Regions from separate parts of the Homo sapiens genome. Here region 2 is linked to region 1. The links come from fine-mapping of genetic effects on gene expression. A gene starts in region 1. The other region holds a variant in brackets. All regions are shown on one strand. Distances are between the middles of the regions. Region 1 holds the start of SPG7 (SPG7 matrix AAA peptidase subunit, paraplegin). Region 2 overlaps SPG7 (SPG7 matrix AAA peptidase subunit, paraplegin).

Region 1 (2,898 bases):
GAAAGGGAGCAGCCCAGCTCTCCAAAGGCCACAGTGGCTGCCCAGACACGGGGCTCCTGCTGTCACCAGAGAGTGGCTCCTTGTAGAACATTTCCAGGTACCAAACCAGTTAACAAGTATATACTTTCAGAGTTCTCCTTTCAAGATAAACATTTTCCCATTTAAATATGTTTTATGGCCGGGCGCGGTGGCTCACGCCCTGTAATCCCAGCACTTTGGGAGGCCGAGGCAGGCGGATCACAAGGTCAAGAGATGGAGACCATCCTGGCCAACATGGTGAAACCCCGTCTCTACTAAAAATACAAAAATTAGCTGGGTGTGGTGGCGCGCACCCGTAATCCCAGCTACTCAGGAGGCTGAGGCAGGAGAATCGCTTGAACCCGGGAGGCGGAGGTTGCAGTGAGCCAAGACCATTGCACTCCAGCCTGGGCGACAGAGCGAGATCTCTGTCTCAAAAATAACCGAAAAAACAACAACCTAAAAGGTGTGGGCTAAGCTCCTAGGCGAGGGCTAGGAGAAAAAAACATCAGCCCAAAAGCTGAAGGACACAAGGTCTGGTTTTCGGGAGGAGATGCTATCCTATCCTTAGCAGAACCTGAAACAAGGCCGCACTACAGGGGGTGCTCAATGACTGTATCAATAACGTGCCGAGCTACATGACAACAGCAAAATGCAGCTACAGGGTATTTTGCGGACACAGAAACGTTCTGGGCCCCCTACTCGGCAATAACCACCCTAACTGGAAGGCGCTGGAATTCCTGGTGACGGAATCGATCCACAGGCGTGGACTGTAAATTAGTGCTACGCCGGAAACCGTTACTGGATTCCACTTTAAAAGGCGAGGAAGACGGGCGGAGAACATCCACACACAACAGACGGGTTGGGAAAGTCCACGCCGAGGACTGCGCGGATCCCAGCCCTGCCTCTTCCCGGCCCGCCCAGCGCCCACGATCCAGGGCCCCAACAGTCGCTCCGCGCCGAGGTCCACAGCTGGGGGATCCGCGGGCCCACAGGCGCAGGCTCCCCCGCCGCAGGGGCCAGGCGGCCTCCGACCCGCCCCGCCGGGCTGGGCCTTACAGAGCAGAGCCGGGCGGGAGGTGGGGCCCGGACTCCGCGGGGATTTACCTGCAGAGCTCGGCCTCCAGCCTCGGCGAGGTCCCCCGGAGGCCTGCTGGCCATGTACGGCCGCCCCCTCCCGGGCCTGGCGGGGAACCCTGGACTCCAGGCCGGGCCTGGGCCCCACAGCGGCCGAGGACCCGGGCCTGGACCCCGGCGGAGGGCACGGAGCAGCAGCAGCAGCACGGCCATGTTGGCCTGAAAGCCGCGCCTGCGTGATCCGCGGGGCGCTACACGGCGCCTGCGCGGCGGGGTGGGCGGGGTCTGACGTGGCGCCTGCGCGGTCCCCACAGCTGCGCCCCGCCGCGCCCGGGTGCCGCTTGCCGCACCCCCGAGCCTGAGCCCGTCTACCTCGTGGCTGCCTGAGGCCCGGGTATGGGGGCGCGCGTCTGCGAGGAGGTCGCGGGTGCCCTGGTTTTTTTGAAGCCGGCCTTGTATTCCCAGGGCCTGGCGGGTGAATAACCGGCCGGGTCGTGGCTGCGTGGTCGTGCTCCGCCCGCGCCGAGGGGCCTCACGCCCGGGCAGCCTGCGTCACCCGCAGGGTTCGGTCACAGGCGAGGGCGGATGGTGCGGGCCGGAATCCCGCCTGCGAGTAGAGGCCCGCGCTCAGGAGGGCGGCGCCGGAGGCCTCGGGTCGGGAGGGCCCCTTCGGGTGTGAGGAGCGCAGGAAGGGGGCGGTTTTCCTGCGTCTTGAGCCGCCCGAGGACGAGGACTGAAGTTGCAGCCGCCGCAGGGAGGGCAGCCCCGGAGGAGGAGGGTCGTGAGGGAGGGAGCGCGCAGTGCGGCGCGGCCTGGCAGGCGTCTGCAGAGCTCGTCCCGCACACCTCTGACTTCGGAGCGCTCCGTCCTGTGCCTTCGGACTGGCTCACCTCGGAGGCGCTTCGAGCCTCGGTCCTGCCCCGGCCGCTGCGCGAGCCCATCGTAGGAAGCGGGGAGGCGCCGTCTGGAAGCTTAGGAAGAGGCTCTGTTCTCTTCAGGGTCCGCCCTCCGGGCCCGGGCAGGGTCCCTCGTGGGCTCCCAGGCGCGCGGGGTCCTCCGCCACCCCGACCCCTTCCTCCGTCCGCCTTAGGTCTAGAGCTGACGCCAAGAGCTGGAAAGCTTGTTGAGTAGGAAAAGCAAAGACTAGATGGTCTGTCACAGAGGTAGGATGAGGGTGACCTATTTATTTTTATGCTTTTCTGTACTCCGCAAATTCGTAACAGTGAATGCCAGTGACGACAGCCAACATCACCGAGTGCCTAGCTCCGTGTCGAACACCCATGTAATATTCACAACCCTGTGCAGCGAATACAATACCTCTATTTTACATGTAAAGAAAGATTCAGAAGTATTAAAAGTAACCTGCCTAGGATTACAGCTCTGAAGTTAGGGCAGAATTTCAAGGCCGGTCTGGTTTGTTTCTGGACCTGCACTCACTCCACCACTACAGACGAGGTTGCAAAGCCAGTGGGCTGCGTGTAATCCTCCCTCTTCCTCAGCCCCGAGACGCTCAGGAAAGTGTTTTCAGTTATCGTGGTTATCCGCCCTCAGCCCTCCAGTGGGCCGGGTGCCTCGGCAGAGGTGCTCGGGGCTGGGGAGGTGTTCTGTTGGTTTGTGGAGAGGACCTTCCCCTACACCCAGGGCTGACACTGATTTTCACAACTGAACCGCTTTTCCTTTTGCTTCTTATTGTACAGTCAGCCTTCGCAGTGAATCCAACCTTGCCGTTTCCTCCTCCACTATTTTTTCTTTCCCTGATTGAAAGACACCAGGTGGGCCGGGCGCGGTGCCCTCCCCCTCCCT
Region 2 (2,869 bases), 35 kb before region 1:
CCAGCACCTGTGGGGCTGTGACAGGCTTCACACCAAGAAGTGTCTTAGAGGAGAGGCCAGACCACTCAGAGCGAGTGGGGGCGGCCCAGGTGGAGTGGGAGAGGCTGGGATCCTGGCTCTGACCTGCAGCGTGGGGAGATCAATGAAGACGTGCCGGTCCAGTCGGCCTGGCCTCATCAGAGCACCGTCCAAAATGTCAGCTCGGTTCGTGGACGCCAGGACGATGACATGGTCTGTGGTACCCATTCCTGAGGGGACAGAGCAGACAGTGGCTCTGAGGGTAGGGGTCCTGACACAACAGATTTCCCCTGCAGGTTCCCCTTCAGGACACAGGAGGGAGAGAGACCCCCCTAAGGCCCAGAGAGAAAGGAACAGCCCGGTCCTTCTGAACTAGGAGCCGCGATCCCCCATCGCTCCCAGCCAGCATCACCAGGAGGAACAGGAATTTGCCTATTTTGACAAGTGCAAACAGCAGAACTGTCCAAGGCCCTCCGGGAGCTCCTACAGCATCCTGGAGCCTCTCCCTGCCTCACGGTGCCATCTGGGAGCCGGTCCTAACAGCCACCCCCCACCCCCCACCGCCCTGTCATCATTATTGTGACTTTGTAACATTTTAGCTAACACCCAGCTTTAGGCTGTGACTTGGAAACATTTTATCTTCAACGTCTGGCCCTAGGCCCTGGGTTTCAGGCTTGACGTTTGTCATCGGAGAATTTAAAAGTGAGTCCAGAAACGATCACTGATCCCTGGTGTATGTGAACCTTGACTGGCCCTTGATGTGAATAAATCAACTGCGAAAAGAGATTTATGAAGCTGCTGGGAACACCTGACTGGATGCTCGTAAGAACGTTCAGGTGTTATGATGCTGTGGTGTTTCTCTGAATTTAAAGAAACGTACTCAGAGCATATAAGATTCAAAACTATGGGTTTGCTTTAAAAGAATCCAGTCCACCAGGTGCAGTGGCTCACGCCTGTAGTCCCAGAACTTTGGGAGGCCGAGGCAGGCAGATCACGAGGCCAGGAGTCCAAGAGAAGACTGGCCAAAATGGTGAAACCCCACAAAAGATACAAAAAATTAGCCGGGTGTGGTGGCGTGCACCTGTAATCCCAGTTACTCAG[G/C]AGGTTAAAGCAGAAGAATCGCTTGAACCTGGGAGGCGGAGGTTGCAGTGAGCCAAGATGACACCACTGCACTCCAGCCTGGGCTACAGGGCAAGACTCCGTCAGGAAAAAAAAAAAAAAAAAAAAAGAATCCACTGGTGGCCAGATGCGGTGGCTCACGCCTGTAATCCCAGCACTTTGGGAGGCTGAGGCAGGTGGATCACCTGAGGTCAGAAGTTCTAGACCATCCTGGCCAAAAGGGTGAAACCTCATTTCTACTAAAATACAAAAATTAGCTGGGTGTGGCGCATGCCTGTAATCCTGGCTACTCGGGAGACTGAGGCAGGAGAATCGCTTGAACCAGGAAGCAGAGGTTACAGTGAACCGAGATTGTGTCACTGTACTCCAGCCTGGGCGACAGAGCAAGACTCTCAAAAAAAAAAAAAAAAAGGAAAAGGTCCACAATAAACAGTGTTAAAAGTAAAGATACGACAAGACCTACCTTGACTAATGTAAGAACAGGACCCGTGACTAATGTAAGAACAGGATATAGCCAGGCGCGGTGGCTCACGCCTGTAATCCCAGCACTTTGGGAGGCCGAGGAGGGCGGATCACAAGGTCAGCAGATGGAGAGCATCCTGGCTAACACAGTGAAACCCCATCTCTACTAAAAATACAGAAAATTAGCTGGGCGTGGTGGCGGGCGCCTGTAGTCCCAGCTACTCCGGAGGCTGAAGCAGGAGAATGGCGTGAACCTGAAGGGTGGAGCTTGCAGGGAGCCGAGATCACGCCACTGCACTCCAGCCTGGGCGACAGAGCAAGACTCCGTCTCAAAAAAAAAAAAAAAAAAAAAAAAGAACAGGATCTACCATGACTAATGTAAGAGCAGGATCTACCGTGACTAATGTAAGAAACCCTTAATAATCCCAGCACGTTGGGAGGCCAAGGTGGGAGGACCATGTGAGCCTAGGAGGTGAAGGCTGCAGTGAGCTATGATCATGCCCCTATACTCCAGCCTGGGCAATGGAGTGAGACCCTGGCTCCAGCAACCCCATGTTCTTAGGACAGGACCTTGAACGCTCTGAGGAGGCTGAGGGGCCTGACCAGCTTCTCCAGGGCCACTGTCCTGAGCCTCACTAAGCCGTAGCCGCCAGGTCTGGACAGCAGCTCAGTCCAAGACACACCCCACTCCCAAGCAAATCGCTCCCGAATTTCAAAGAAACTTTGAAAGACACAACCATTCTCCCTGGTTCCACACGTCAGAATGTGATAAGCTGGGATGCTAAGTCCCAGTCACATTTCTACAAGGGAGATCACAGAAGAGAATCACCTCGCCAAGGCAAAGACAGTGTCTTAAAATCACGGTGACTTTTAAAATAAACTCAGAAACAAAAACAGGCAGCAGAAGCACAAGTGCCTTGTCTCACTATGACACGAGGAACAAGAGGCTGGGGAGGGTGGGGACTGGGACCCAAGCTGGCCCCTCCAGAGCTGTCTGGAAGGCCTGCCAAGGCTTACTGCTCAGTGTCGTGGAGCGCCTTCCTTGCAGAGGCCAGGGCTGTGGATACAGAATTCTGAAAGATTGTATAAACAGTGAAAAAAATGGGAAAAGTAATAGGAACACCGGTCTCAAAGAAAAACAGCAGCCAGGCCAAAGAGGTGCAGTGCGAGCTCCTAGAGGGGGCGGCGCCGGGTTCAAGCACAGCTCGGCCTTCAGCAGAGCCCAGCCACCCTGCGGGGCACGTGCTCCCCACCGGGCTATGTGTCAGGA

What was found. PIP is the estimated chance that this variant, and not a neighbour inherited with it, causes the effect.
Region 2: its variant is the best candidate, but not a certain one, in a credible set for the expression of SPG7 in whole blood (TOPMed, PIP 0.55).

What each region holds. Positions count from the first base shown.
Region 1 is chr16:89,506,828-89,509,725 of GRCh38, reverse strand. SPG7 (SPG7 matrix AAA peptidase subunit, paraplegin) reads right to left here and starts at 1,323. Exons shown (of 17, transcript NM_003119.4): 1 at 1,126-1,323. The coding sequence starts at 1,308. LOC101927863 (a long non-coding RNA gene) reads left to right here and starts at 1,406. Exons shown (of 5, transcript NR_188547.1): 1 at 1,406-1,489. RefSeq lists silencers at 830-949, 980-1,539, 1,610-1,819, 1,940-2,009.
Region 2 is chr16:89,542,027-89,544,895 of GRCh38, reverse strand. It overlaps SPG7 (SPG7 matrix AAA peptidase subunit, paraplegin), which reads right to left. Exons shown (of 17, transcript NM_003119.4): 10 at 124-248. Among named protein-coding and RNA genes, the nearest start is that of RPL13, 17 kb to the left of the region's middle. The variant G/C (reference allele first, on the strand shown) is at 1,120.